Linked DNA regions of Homo sapiens. The protein of the gene in region 2 interacts with the protein of the main gene of each other region in a pairwise test. Each region holds a gene or a part of one and is shown on either strand. Other genes may lie near its edges.

The links. Proteins that work in one complex are often made in the same cells at the same time.
Region 1: the proteins of CLSTN1 (region 2) and TRIP12 interact in a two-hybrid assay, tested with the Homo sapiens proteins (one study listed by BioGRID and IntAct).
Region 3: the proteins of CLSTN1 (region 2) and KCTD17 interact in binary tests that used the Homo sapiens proteins (3 or more experiments, as listed by UniProt).
Region 4: the proteins of CLSTN1 (region 2) and TOPBP1 interact in a two-hybrid assay, tested with the Homo sapiens proteins (one large-scale study listed by IntAct).

The regions. Positions count from the first base shown.
Region 1 is NC_000002.12:229,765,010-229,768,509, forward strand, and holds part of TRIP12 (E3 ubiquitin-protein ligase TRIP12), read right to left. Parts: intron 2,742-3,500; coding exon 2,545-2,741; 3' UTR 1-2,544. UniProt on the Homo sapiens protein: E3 ubiquitin-protein ligase involved in ubiquitin fusion degradation (UFD) pathway and regulation of DNA repair.
Region 2 is NC_000001.11:9,750,966-9,754,465, reverse strand, and holds part of CLSTN1 (calsyntenin-1 isoform 1 precursor), read left to right. Parts: intron 1-2,784; coding exon 2,785-2,993; intron 2,994-3,500. UniProt on the Homo sapiens protein: Postsynaptic adhesion molecule that binds to presynaptic neurexins to mediate both excitatory and inhibitory synapse formation.
Region 3 is NC_000022.11:37,058,242-37,061,741, reverse strand, and holds part of KCTD17 (BTB/POZ domain-containing protein KCTD17), read right to left. Parts: intron 2,430-3,500; coding exon 2,304-2,429; intron 920-2,303; coding exon 820-919; intron 639-819; coding exon 567-638; coding exon of another isoform or gene 204-566; coding exon 113-203; coding exon of another isoform or gene 1-112. UniProt on the Homo sapiens protein: Substrate-adapter for CUL3-RING ubiquitin ligase complexes which mediates the ubiquitination and subsequent proteasomal degradation of TCHP, a protein involved in ciliogenesis down-regulation.
Region 4 is NC_000003.12:133,641,442-133,644,941, forward strand, and holds part of TOPBP1 (DNA topoisomerase 2-binding protein 1), read right to left. Parts: intron 2,923-3,500; coding exon 2,579-2,922; intron 1,932-2,578; coding exon 1,759-1,931; intron 1-1,758. UniProt on the Homo sapiens protein: Scaffold protein that acts as a key protein-protein adapter in DNA replication and DNA repair. Composed of multiple BRCT domains, which specifically recognize and bind phosphorylated proteins, bringing proteins together into functional combinations.

The DNA of each region.
Region 1 (3,500 bases), on a different chromosome or scaffold from region 2:
CAATTAGTCTACCTAGAACTTACAGTTCAGTTTTCTGGGGGGATAGGAAGAGGGGATTACATTTAGCTACCTCTTCCTTCTTGGAATAGTTAAAAATACGTTCTCATATATAAAGCAGATCGAATCAGTAACTGTCTAAATGACAACACAAATTCGGTGTTAGCTATGACTAACATCTGACTGACTCCATCTCAGCAAAAAATAAAGGACAACAAAATCTCAGTTGTTACCCAACTAAGTGTTTAAAGTATACTAAGAAGTTAGTGCTCGTTGATAGGATTACCAAGCAAATGAATTTAAGGCATAACTGGAGTAACAGCAAATGAAGTATATACTTTTTCCCTCTGGTGCAATAAGGCCTCTGCCAAGAGAGATTACTTTAAGAGTTTTCCTGCCCCAAATTAACCAAAGGTCCCGTGTATTGAAGGAGGAATAAGCTAAAGGCTGAGGCTTTTAAACAGGTAACGACTGACTTTGAAACACTCAAGACTTTAGAGTTTGAGTCAAAATCATCATATATACTTATTAGATGCTGGAATCAATGAGGCCAAATTTGCCAGGGCTGCAACATGGATAAAATGTCAAGTACAGATGAAACATTATTTTGTTTATACATGTCTAAATTTTAACAGAACCCTTTAAAAATCAGGAACAAAATGCTATGTTCACACAAAAATCCTTGTGCTTAATTTGCAGGAAGATATCAGAACAGTTGAAAACAAATTGTTTCAGTCTTTAACTTCACTTGATGAAGCTGCTCAGCAACTGTGCTGTTAGTGGTGAAAACTGCAGAAACACAATTCCCTTCTTGGATTTCAGGGAAAAGCCATTCACTTGTCAGTCTCTGCAGAGACAGGGAGAGAATTCTCTGCCCCCAACTCCTCTGACAGTTCCCTTCCACTTAATGGGGTCACTGCCCAAGTGAACTCTCAGGAGGGGACATTTCCATATAAGGCCATTTAAGTGTAAATTGACACAGCAATCTATGTCAAACAAGCCACTGAGTTTCTTTTGGGTGGTGGGATAGGGAAAAGGGCTTTTGTGTCAATTAATTAAAACTTACAGAACAGTCAAAAAAATTGATTTCTCAAAGTTCAATTAAAAAAAAAAACTAGCTCATCTCTTATTTTCAAGGAGATGAATTATGGAAAATTCCTTCAAATTTATGCCACAGGCCTAGTTTTGGACCTTAGGAAGGAATCTCCTCCCATTTTCTCTTCACATTTTAGTTTCTTCAAGTTGCTATTATAAATTGTTTGAATAGCAAAATCAGCCATGACCCGAATCATGGAGATATGTGGATTTCCTTGCATTGAAATACATCTATACAATTGAAAGTTATGCATACAGCACAAAACTATAAACAAAAAGGTGAAGCAAACTTTCTTTATTTTCAGGTAAAAACATTAACCTGATGGATTATTGCAGATTTGAGAAATCAGCACATAAAATGACTGGACAGCATTGCTTACAGGTGCTTTTATCTGCGTCGAGACAAAGGCTGAACTGTTTTGTCCCAAGTCAGCACTGGGAGAAGGGGAAGAGGAGCGTGGAATAAAGAAGACTATGAACAAAAACGTAAAACAACAAAGGGAAAAAAATTTTTTTACTCCAACAGGGAAGGAAAACTGCTTATTTTGTTTAAAAAATTTACATTAATTTAAAATCCTCTGGCCACAGAATAATAAATACCGGCCAGCCCAAGCTGTAGACTTCTTAACCTTCATAAAAGAAACAAATGAGCTTTCCTTGTCTCATTCCAGAGGCTGTTGCTGCTGGAATTGCCATGTAAACAGTCCTTAGTGTGTCACCTGGGAAAAAGCCAGTAATACCCTAAACTATATTAAAACTAAACTATAAGAAAAGTCTACCTAGTTACAAAAGCTGAATTATATTCAATAAATTTCAATCCAATGAATTTTAAATTAGATCTTAACTGGAGAGAACATGGGACAACAGAAGCCCATGGGTAACGAAAATTTGAGAACTGTGAGTTGTATACAAAAAAAAAACTGTGAGCTGCACAGATAATAATGAATCAGGGAGAGAAAATCAGAGGAAAGTGAAAAGCACATAGAGCTAGTCTACTAAACTATATTTGTCAAATACATGTGAGCTTAAATTTCTGTACTTATGTACAAGAGTTGTCTTTGGAGGAAAGAAAACTGCAGACTTAGCTAGATGGATACACACAGCCCAGAATTAAACTGCACAGCCACATTTATTGTTCCAGCCTGGAAAAACATCCCTTTTTTAAATTTCACACAGCAAAGCATGTTAAAAACTTCACTCATCAAATAAATGATAATTTAAACAAGAACTTGCTAAAGAAACCTCATCACAACAACGTTTTAGGGCCTGATCACTTTAAGTCCATGGGGCCATTAATGAATATCAACCAAATGTCTCTTTATAATCTGCAAGCCGTTTTTCCTACAACAAGAAGGCGTAACATGTTTCCTTGACTCAGGTGATAACATTAGAAAAGAAATCATGATTTGTTTCTTTTGCTGTAACAGGCAGACACTGCATTTCTTGCTATGATCAGGAAAGATGGAACGACTGCTGCCCTTCTCTTGCTGCTATCAACAGTTTTTCACGCATTATCTCAATGCTTGAATAGTCCGGCAACTTAAGATAGTTCACACAAGTCATTACAGAGGGCAAGAAGTCATCTGGGTTTTCTGTTGATTCAAACGTCTTTCGGACAATTGTCAAAGGTGGATTCAAACTCCGGAATCCTGATTAAGAGAAAAAGAAAGACAAGGAACTTAAGTTTTTAAAAAACATCAGCTATCAGAAAACATTCCACTGCTTTGCCGTACAATATTACACACAAGATATTCTTTCTTGCTTGGCAATTGCACATTCAATATACATTAAGTGCAAGGAACCTGCTTTAATTTATCATTTAAAAACTCGCTGTATAACATGGAGGCAACAGTTCTTTATGTCTTCTGATTTTTAAAATGGAATACCCACAGTGGTTCACGCCCGTAATCCCAGCACTCTGGGAGGCCGAGGTGAGCCAGTCGCTTGAGAGTTTCAGACCAGCCTGGGAAACATGGAGAAACCCTATCTCTACAAAAATACAAAAATTAGCCAGACATGGTGCTGTGTTGTGCCTGTAGTCCCAGCTACACAGGAGGCTGAAGCAGGAGGATCTCGCCTGAGCCCAGGAGGCAGAGGTTGCAGTGAGCCAAGATCACGCCACTGCACTTCAGCCTGGGTGACAAGAGTGAGATCCTGTCTCAAAAAACAAAACAAAAACAACAGAATACCAATTTAACTTACATTAGGATTCAATCTGAAAAACCAGATTTTAGAATCCATTCTCATCTAAGTCAACTAAGAGTTTAGAATGTACAAATGGCCTGGAATTTTATCTAACCAGCATTACATGTGCATTAGTAATCCTACTTCAATATGTTTAAGACAATCCCCATGGATTTCCCTGCTAGTGGTCTCAATGTACTATAATGATACTGGAATAACTAAGA
Region 2 (3,500 bases):
TGCCTCAGCCTCCCGAGTAGCTGGGATTACAGGTGCCTGCCACCACGCCTGGCTAATTTTTGTATTTTTAGTAGAGACGGGTTTCACCATGTTGGCCAGGCTGGTATCAAACTCCTGACCCCATCATTCACCTGCCTCGGCCTCCCAAAGTGCTAGGATTACAGGCGTGAGCCACCACACCCGGCCTAGGTTTTTAATAAATGAATGAGTGAATAATTTTATCACACCAAATACTCTATTAAAGAAGTAAAGGCCCTACATTAAAAATTGAAAAAGTCTGCTTCTCCCTTAGGAAGGTTATTTTGTTGTCATATTTATCTTTTGCTGTAATTCCTAAGGGCATAAACTTAATCATTGTTGGCCAGGTGCAGTGGCTCACACCTATAATCCCAGCACTTTGGGAGGCTGAGGTGGGAAGATTGCTTGAGCCTAGGAGTTTGAGAGCAGCCTAGACAATGTAGGAGATGCCATCTCTACAAAACATAAACAGCCAGGTATGGTGGCACATGCCTGTGGTCTCAGCTACTTGGGAGGCTAAGGCGGGAGGATTGCTTGAGCCCGAGAGGTTGAGGCTGCAGTGAGCCATGATTGTGCCACTGTACTCCAGTCTGAGTGTCAGAATGAGACCCTGTCCCTAAAAAACAATAACAACAAAAATTGGCCAGGCACGGTGGCTCACGCCTGTAATCCCAGCACTTTGGGAGGCCGAGGCAGGCAGATCACCTGAGGTGATTTTCACCTGAGGTCAGGAGTTCATGACCAGCCTGGCCAACATGGAGAAACCCTGTCTCTACTAAAAATACAAAATTAACCAGGCATGGTGGCACGCGCCTGTAGTCCCTGCTTCTCGGGAGGCTGAGGCAGGAGAATCACTTGAACCTGGGAGGTGGAGGTTGCACTGAGCCAAGATCACATCATTGCACTCCAGCCTGGGCAAAAAGAATGAAACTCCGTCTCAAAAAAAAAAAAAAATTAGTCACTGCTGGTGGAAGTAGGCTGGCTCGCTGCCACAATCCTGAGTGTGTTGCTGCACCTCCTGCCAGTTAGGAACTGCAGTTGTAGCAGAGAGGGCTTTGGACAAGACAACATAGAACAGGGGTCGCCATACCTCAGGACGTGGGCCAGTACTGGTCCGTGGCCTGTTAGGAACCAGGCCACACAGCAGGAGGTCAACAGCATGTGAGCGAGTGAGCATTTCTGCCCGAGCTCCACCTCCTGTCACATCAGCAGCGGTATCAGATTCTCACAGGAGCGCGAACCCTGTTGTGAACTGAGCATGCCAGGGATCTAGGTTGTGCGCTCCTTATGAGAATCGACTGCCTGATGATCTGAGGTGGGGCATTTTCATCCCAAAACCATCCTCCCACCCCCATCTGTGGAGAAATTGCCTTCCATGAAATCAGTCCTTGGTGCCAAAAAGGCTGGGGACTGCTGGTGTTCTCAAGTCCAGTGTCTTCTACAATTAGATTGTAAGCTCTAGTCTTTTCTAGAGCTCTAGTCTTTTCTCCACCACTTGCTAGCCCTTTGGCATTGTGCAAATTTAATTTTGTTGAGTCTGTTTCTTTTTCTTTTGTTTTATTTATTTATTTATTTACTTATTTTTTGAGGCAGAGTCTCGCTCTGTCACCCAGGCTGGAGTGCGGTGGCACAATCTCGGCTCACTGCAACCTCCACCTCCAGGGTTCAAGCGATTCTCGTGCCTCAGCCTCCCAAGCAGCTGGGATTACAGGCACGCTCCACCACACCTGGCTAATTTTTGTATTTTTGGTAGAGACGGAGTTTCACCATGTTGGCCAGGATGGTCTTTAACTCTGACCTCTGGTGACCCTCCTGCCTCAGCCTCCCAAAGTGCTGGGATAGGTGTGAGCCACCACACCCGGCCCTGAGTCTCAGTTTCTACTTAGCACATCTACTAAAGAAGGGTATGTGGGCGAGATGGTGTCACATAACCCATTGTGAGGGTCAGACCGATGGCACTGGGATGAGGAGGCTCATGGTGAGCAGAAGGTGCAGTGCCCCAGTGAGTCTCTTCTCTTTTTCCACAGTGTAATGTTATTGTTTCCCTTGAAAAGGTCAGATTTTGACCAAAGTCCTTGACTGATTCAGAAGCATGCCCTGACCATTAGCCCTTGAAACCTACAGTTTTTTTTATTTGTAGCCAGGTCTGATGACACCCTAATTTTCTTGATAACTGAGCTGGGGTATTGGCAGGTGGCAACGGCCTGCCTCTCCTGAACTCTTCCATTTGTTGAATCAGGACCAGGTGATGCCATGGACTCCAGCCTATTCCCTAGAAGTAGGACAGAATTCGTTTGAACTCTCAGAATCAAACCATTTCATGCTTTCTCTGTTTCATACCCCTTCTTCCCTTGGCTCTATTTTTTTTCTGGATTTTGCTACAAAATATGTTTCAACTTTATAATTGGAGAGCAAACAGACGTCTGGTATTGTTTATCTCCCTTCTGCCTGTCTTGTCCCATATTGTCAAAAAAAAACACCCAAGTCTCTTTTATTTTAGATGATTGGTTTTTTGCTTTATTCTTAGGATATGGAAGAATCGACCCAAATCCCTCTTTTAACTTTCTGTTATCTCCACACTTGAATGAAAAGCAGTGAATAGCTTGTTTAATTTTTGACTTCATCATATGAATTTCATGAAACAAGGTATCAGAAACAGGAAATTTTAAAGTAGGGCAGAATTGGGTAAACACACATACACACTCTCTGTCTCTCTCTCACACTGAAAACAAGCAGAAAAATATTTTTCTCCCTCCCTTTGTCCAGAGCAACTGTTCATATTCAGGTGAACGACGTGAATGAGTACGCGCCCGTGTTCAAGGAGAAGTCCTACAAAGCCACGGTCATCGAGGGGAAGCAGTACGACAGCATTTTGAGGGTGGAGGCCGTGGATGCCGACTGCTCCCCTCAGTTCAGCCAGATTTGCAGCTACGAAATCATCACTCCAGACGTGCCCTTTACTGTTGACAAAGATGGTAAGAATCGAGGAGCCGGCTTTTCAGCTAGGTAGACAGTCCCTGCTAACCCCACTGACTTTACACCCCAGCTTCTGTGCTTCGTCAGAACTTCATGGAACTCACAAGTTGGAGACCTAACCTGGTGTGTGTTTGCTTTTAATTGTAAAAACATTTAAGTTTCTACTTTGTTCCCTGACAACTTCTTCTCTGGAACCTGTAAGTCCTGTGTTCTCTTGTGGGGCTCACCTCTTTTTTGCTTTCCCACCAAAATCAAATAAAAATCCTCCTACCTGACATGGCTTTGTTTTTTTAATCTTCTTAACTTTCAGTCCACATGCATCTGAATGAGACTGACCTTTACATTTAGTTTGTCTCATTTTCTGTTCTCCATTAAGTTTTTTGTTTTTGTTTTTGTGGTTTTTTTTTGAGACAGTTTCTCACTCTGTTCCCCAGGCTGGAGTACAGTGGTGCGATCTCAGCTCACTGCAACCTCTGCCTCCCGGGTTCAAGTGATTCTCCTACCTT
Region 3 (3,500 bases), on a different chromosome or scaffold from region 2:
GAAACTTTGGTGGGTGGAGATAATCAGCCGAAAGCTCGGCTCAAGTCCAAGGATCAAGAGATGAGCACCCTCCTCGCTCCACCCCTCCCTCCAGCACCGCCAAGCTACAAACCAGGGATGGCAGCTCTGGGGGCGGGCGAGGGGCCGAGGAGAAGCCCTCACTGCAAGCTCAGCCTCAGGTCTGAGAGGGTGCGGACGGGAACCTGCAAGGAGGAAACGTGAGGAGGAGGCCGGGAGGAGAGGAGGGGGGGCAGGGCCTGCAGCCAGGGCCCAGTCTCAGAGGTGCCCGGCAGGGTTAGTGGGCACAGAGGAGGTGCAGCTGCGCCCCTCCTCCCCAGGCTGGGAGGCAGGAGGTACCAGAAGGGGCGCAGGAGGCGGCAGGCAGGACGCTCTGGGATGCAGGGCCAGGGGGCCTGGGTGGAGGGCACGGGAGGCTGGGACCAGGGCAGACCCGGGATGGAGGCGTGAGCAGGCAGAGAGAAAACCCGGACAGGGGCAGAGAGGGAAGAGGCAGGGTGCAGATGAGATCCAGGAGGAAGAAGAGGTGGATGAAGATGAGGCAGGACCTCCAGCGGGAAGCGGAGGAGGAGGCAGTGGTGGGAGGGAGAAAAGGTTAGCGGGATCCTGAGATGACTGGGCTGCAAAGAGAAAGTGAGAGAAGGGATGGTTATGCGGGTGAGGCGCCAGGCAAGTGGCTGAGCTAACCCTGGTGCCCCCCCAGCAGCCCCGGGGCCCCCGGTTCTGCAGCTGGCTCCAGCAAGGAGTGGGCGGGAGGCTCCGGCTTTGCTTAGCAATCATCCTCCTGGGGGTTGGCTGCACCTTTCTCCTGTGCATCTGCCTCCACCTGCACCTGTTCCACCTCCACCTCCTCCACCTCCTCCTCCTGCTGCTGCTGCTCCTCCAGCTGCTCCTCCGTGCTCTGTGAACCAGCCGGCGGACCCAGGGAAGAAAGAGTGGAGACACTAACAGAGGGGCCAGGGCCTGCTGGCTATCCCCAAAGACCCGGTCTCAGGCAAGGTGAAAGGGACCTCAGGAGAGGGGAGGGCTCCAGCCACAGAAGCTGGGGGCATCTTCTCCGGTCCCCTGGGCAGCTTGGGGAGGGCCTGGGGAAAGCAGCTGAGGATGGGATGCTGTGGGCATGCTCCGGGGTCAGCCTGGCTGCTGTTACATAGAGCGAGGCTGGAGGGAGGGGATGAAGCAGAACAGGGAGGGTGTGGGACTGGGGTATCCCTGAGGGGTGCCTGGGAAGGCCTTGTTTGGAAAGACTGCTCCTCAGTAGAAATGTGGCCAAGGAAGCCCCAGGGCAGACACCACCCAGATCTGGGATGCCAGCCAGTCTCTGACACCCCAGGTCCAGGGGCTTTGGCCCAAAGAGGCAGAAGGAGCAGTCTCGCTCTGCACCCTTGCAGGGCAGCGTCAGCCCTGGCAGTGGTGGGGGTGGGTGGGCAGGCAGGGTGCGTCACAGCAGGACAGGGAGGCAGACAGATAGACAGGAAGCCAGAGGTAAGCCTCCACTGTGTGGGGTTGGGCCCCAGGAGGAGCAGCCTGCCTTCTTCCCAGCCTGGTTCACGCCTGCTCTGTGGCTCTGCGAAGGCCCTTGGGACTTCCCACAGCACTGGGTCCAGGATGGCAGGACCCCCGCTCAGCCCTCTCCCCACAGTGGTACAGTGGATGCTGCCAGGGTGCTCTCAGGAGGCTGCCTCAACAGGCCAGGCGGACACACAGGACTGGCAGCCACCAGGCTGCCCCTATCCTGCAGAGCAGCCAAGGAGGGGGCCTGGGAAAGGGGCAGGATTTACAGCGGTGGCTTCCTCATCCTGGCTCAGGCCAGCTGGGGACATGCACCTGTCCCTGGGGAATAAACGGCCATTTGGGATCCCAGAAGTTCCAGGCTCCAAGGCACTACAAAGAGTATGTGATCCTCCCCTCTCACTTCAGAGAGTGCAGCAAAGGTGCTGGGAGAGGACAAGCCCTGTCCTAAGTCACACAGAGAGTGCCACACTGTGCCCTGACCCCTAGTCCATGCCACAGTGCCCAGTGGCCACTAAGCGGCCCCCTTCATGTAGCCTCTGAGTCCACGCCGGCTGCACCCTGGGGATGCTCTCATTTCACTGCTCCCAGCCTGGGCCTGGGTAACGGCAGGTGGCATGGGATGGATGGCGGTGGCTGTGAGCATGGGGTTGTGCATGGGCGGTGGCGGGAGAGAGGTGGAGGGATGGTGCAGGCGCAGGGGCGGGACAGGCGGGGAGGGTGGAGGGAGACAGGAGACTTCTCCGGACACAGGCTGAGGCGGGTGGGCTCACCTTGGTTTTGCGGCTGGACTCTGAGCTCAGCCCGTTTGGGGTGCTGTGGAGCTCCTTGGACACCACACACAGGAACTCTGCCTGGTCCTCGCTGCCGTAGTTGTAGGAGGAGCCGATGTTCACCAGCTAGAGGGGCGGAGCATGGGGAGAAAAATGCAGGTTGGTGTTGGGGGCCGTGGGGCAGGATACGACAGACCTCGGCACTCAAATCAAGATACCAGCTCAGGTCCTAATCTTGCGGCTTGTCGGGCCCACTCCTGGGTTTGTAGAGGGCACCTCTGGGCAGGAAGGTGGAGTCTTCCCCCTTGCAACCTGTGCCTGTGGTCTGTGCCCCAGGACCAGCCCCTCCGCCTGGCTTGGCTGGCCCGATCCCTGGTGGAGGGTGGCAGCATTACCGCTGTCCCCACCACCACCTCCAGCCTAGCCCCAGAGCCAGGGGGCCCTTTTCTAAATGCAGGCGGAGGCCTCTAAAGGGCGGCTGTCCCCCATTCCAGATGTGGCTGACACAGCCCCAGGACAAGGTTGCAGGGTGGCATTGGCAAGGTGGAGCCCCACAGAATATTCCCTTCACTCCTGGAAGCAGAGGTGGGACGACAGGTGGTCCACTCCTGAGACCAAAGGGCAAATGACCAATGGTCCCTGGCCTGCTTGCTCAGCCTCTGAGAGCCTGTGCAATTGCCAAAGACACCCAGAGGCTCTCAGAGTGGCCCTGCCCTTGTTCCAGGGTCCCTAGAATAACCACGCCCACAGAGCCCTTCTGGCTAAGAAATAAGAAAGTTCTTCCAGGTGATGAGTCTCATTCAGCTCTCAGGGACCCTGAAGAGAATCTCAGGCCTGCTGAAGGCCTCACAGCTAGGAAGGGGTGGAGCAGGGAATGGCATCGGGGATCCCAAGTCCTCTCTGAGTGTTGCAGACTTCAATATGGATTTCTAATGATTTGCATGACACTAATGCCAACATAGGGAGTCCTACGGAGGGCTGTAAGCTTTACTGATGGCCCTTCTAATCTCACAAGAGTCCTACAGAGGAGGTACTGTTAGCCCACTTCACCGATGAGGGAACTGGGTCCCGCACAGGAGATGTAACTTGCCCAAGGTGGCAGGCATGTCTGTGGCAAGGCCTAGAGGTGAAGCCAGGCCTCTGGCTCTGCACTAGGCCCATTCTTCCATCCCTCCAGGCCATCCTGGGGGCTCCGAC
Region 4 (3,500 bases), on a different chromosome or scaffold from region 2:
TGCAGCCTTGACCTCCCAGGCTCAAACAATCCTCCCACCTCAGCCTCCCAAATAACTGAGACTACAGATTTATGCTACATTGCCTGGCTCATTTTTAAAATTTTTTGTAAAGACAGGGTCTCAGTATATTGTCCAGGCTGGTGTTGAACTTGGCCTCCTGCCACGGCCTCTCAAAGTGCTAGGATTACAGGCATGAACCACCAGACCTGGCCACAAAATATATTTTAATAACTGTTAGGGCTAGTCCCAATTATTCTATTTCAGAATTTGCATGACTTTCCTGCTGAGTACAGCTTTAGCTGTATCCAGTGGAGTCTGTCATCATGTATGTTATTATCTTCCACAATTTCAGTTTTAAAAGAATTTTATTATTTCATATAATTCAAACAGAAAACAGCAAAAAAAGAAATATACAGCTATACGAATTATTATAAGGTGAAACCCTTAAGTCCACCACCCAGGTCAGAAGACAGAATCTTGCTAACTACCCCAGAACCTCTCCAACATGCCATATAAACCCCCTTCCCTCCCTTCTTAATAGTAGCCACTATTTGGGCTTTTTTTTGGAGACAGGATCTCATTTTGTTGCCCTGGCTGGAGTATAGTTGTGTGATCATAGCTCACTGCAGCCCTGGTCTCCTGGGCTCAAGTAATCCTCCTGCCTTAGCCTCCCGAGTAGCTGGGACCATAGGCACATGCCACCATGCCTGGCTCATTTTTTTTTATTATTTTTTAAATAGAGACGAGGTCTCACTATGTTGTACAGGCTGGTCTTGAACTCCTGAGCTCAAGCAATCTTTTAGCCTCCCGAGTGCTGGGATTACAGGTGTGAGCCACTGTGCTTGGCCTATTTGGATACTTATAGTAATCACTTCTTTACTTTTCTATAATCAAATAATGGCAACTTTAAAGACTACATTTAGGCTTTTGCTTTTTCAAGTCTTTTAGCTTATAGGTTCCTACCTTCTTTTCCATGCCCTTAATATATATTCATTGAAGACACTGGATCATTTATGCCAGAGTTGTACTAAAGTCTGGGTCTTGCTGATTATATCACTGTAGTATAGTTTAACGTGTTATTCTGCTGTTTGCATTTCCTATAAATTGGGAATTGGATCTAGAAGCATCATCAGATTGAGGTTTGATTATTTTGGCAAGACTACTTCAAAGTGGTGGTGTATTCTTTGTAAGAAGGCACATCATGTCTTGTCCCTTTATTGTGTGATCGACTATTGATGTTCAATGCCTAGATTCTTTCATTCATTAGGGGTTACAGTCTTATCATTCCTTATTTATTTATTTGTTTGTTGAAACATCTTTATAAAGGGAAACTTTGTCGTATCCACTATCATGTTACCCTGATGCAAACTGCACAGGAAATGCAAGGTAATTCCTTGATCCTTTCCTTTTGTCAGCTTTCAAAGTAATGGACTGGTTCTCTAGCATCTTTCAAAGATGACCAATTACCTTACTTTATTTGGTGTCATTATGAAGTCACAACTTAAACACTATTTCATGTGTTTGGACCCACTGCAGTTATTACCTCTAATGATACCTAAGTTTTCATCTTTGGACAACAGAGGCACTTTTTTTTTTTAAGGCTAGTCAAGTGAAGCAGTGGGAGTGGAGAAGGAACCACATAACACTCATAAATATAATAAAGACACCCAACCAAATTCTAATTTGAATGCTCTCCAAGAAGTCAAAATAAATAAAAAGATACACCAATACAACAGGTGCATTAAAAATATTACATACCTTGCTCCAAGGAGGTTTGCTAGGAATGTTAAAGACTCTTTTTCTGCTCCAGCACACTGGCTAAATGAAATAACACAATCCTCTAAAGGAGTCATTCCTGTCATTACTGGAACTGGTGTGAAGAGAGGATTCGACTTTGGATCAAACAAAGTCTGATAGTCTATGCAAGTAACCTTTTAAAAACAAAAGAAATAGTAAAGCCAACCTGAAATAAGCAACCAGTGGTTAACACTGGTTCAGGTACAGAAGCAATAATTTAGTTTTGATAAGAAGAAATTTTACTTTAATACAAACTTGTGTATGCTCATTCTCAATACATTTCATATCATAATGTTAGAGTATATATATACATACACACATATACATACATCGACTAATTACATTAGGCTATTAAAATCGGTAAGATCTATTATTAGAGTTACTGAATGTTGCTTTAAATTTCATTCCTTCTAATGTATTAGTTTATACTATTTTTCTCATAATTCTTGGAATGTTAAAAAAAAAAAAATCAACAGTGAAATTACCAGTGATGCTTTGGTTATGAGAAAACAAGACAAATAGTATGAGATGACCCTAGAGTGACCTCCTAAGAAGGAATGTTGCTGCTGTGGCCCTGGGAAACAGTAATCTCTACTGTATCGGGATTAGGCCAAGAAGCTTGCACATTTAATTTTGAATTTCCCTTGCTAAAAGCAAAATCAAGAGTGTTCAAGTCCAAGCATTGATTTACTGTAACTGAACTGTCTAAGAAATAAACATTAACCTTCTTGGCATTCAGATATCCTTCGATACTTTATTTCAACCACTAGTGTTGTCTTACCAGCCATGTATTTGTAACAACTTCTCCCACAGTGGCTTCCACTTCACACCCCAGCAGAGGAACCACAGCATAATCCGCAACAGTTCTGCTCAGAAGGGACATGATTTTCCCAGCATTTTCTTTTATGATGTTTGCGATGTTAGATTCATTTTCATTACTAAAACCCAAAACAAGGAAACTCTTTTGGCTAAATAAGCCTTCTTCAGTAATTGTAGAAACATCAGGGACACAATGACTGACAGAAGACTGGTTTTCTTCTTGCAAAGAAATGTGAGTAGAATCATTCAAGGGCTCAGCATGAGTAGAATCATTAAAGGGCCTGGCTTCAGACGTCTTAGCCTCAACTGAAAGAGAAAAGTAAATGTTTTCTAACCAACAATTTACCTTATACAGTTTACTTCCTAGCAAGGATATTAACGTAACATGGAATCTGATAATTTTGACCATACTTACAAAACTAAAGCTTACGTGTATAATAAAGGGATATGGATTCACCCCGTCTTCGGGGTTACCAAGAGTCCTTATCAGTATTACCATCATCCATTGGGAAGGACAAGAGCAATCATGTTAGTTCTAGGTATTCCTAGTATAATGGAAACTTGAATTAGTTTAAAATTATATAGCTCCAACAGGACTTAGTTCCAAAACTGGTTTAGATGATTCACCATAAAATTAAGAAACTATCATTAAGAAAAAAATTAACAAGTCTAAATGGTATAACTGTCAAGTCCTTAACATGGAACATGTTAACATGGAAATAACTATAAGGAAGTGGCTGGCAAATCCTAAAATATTTATTGTCTACTCCTTTAGAGAAAAAGTTTGCCCTGCTATGTGATTCCAACAAGGCTGGAAGCTATCCAAGAATCACTCTTTCATTTATATAAGCACTGTGACTAAGTGCTTTACAAATGCATGTAAT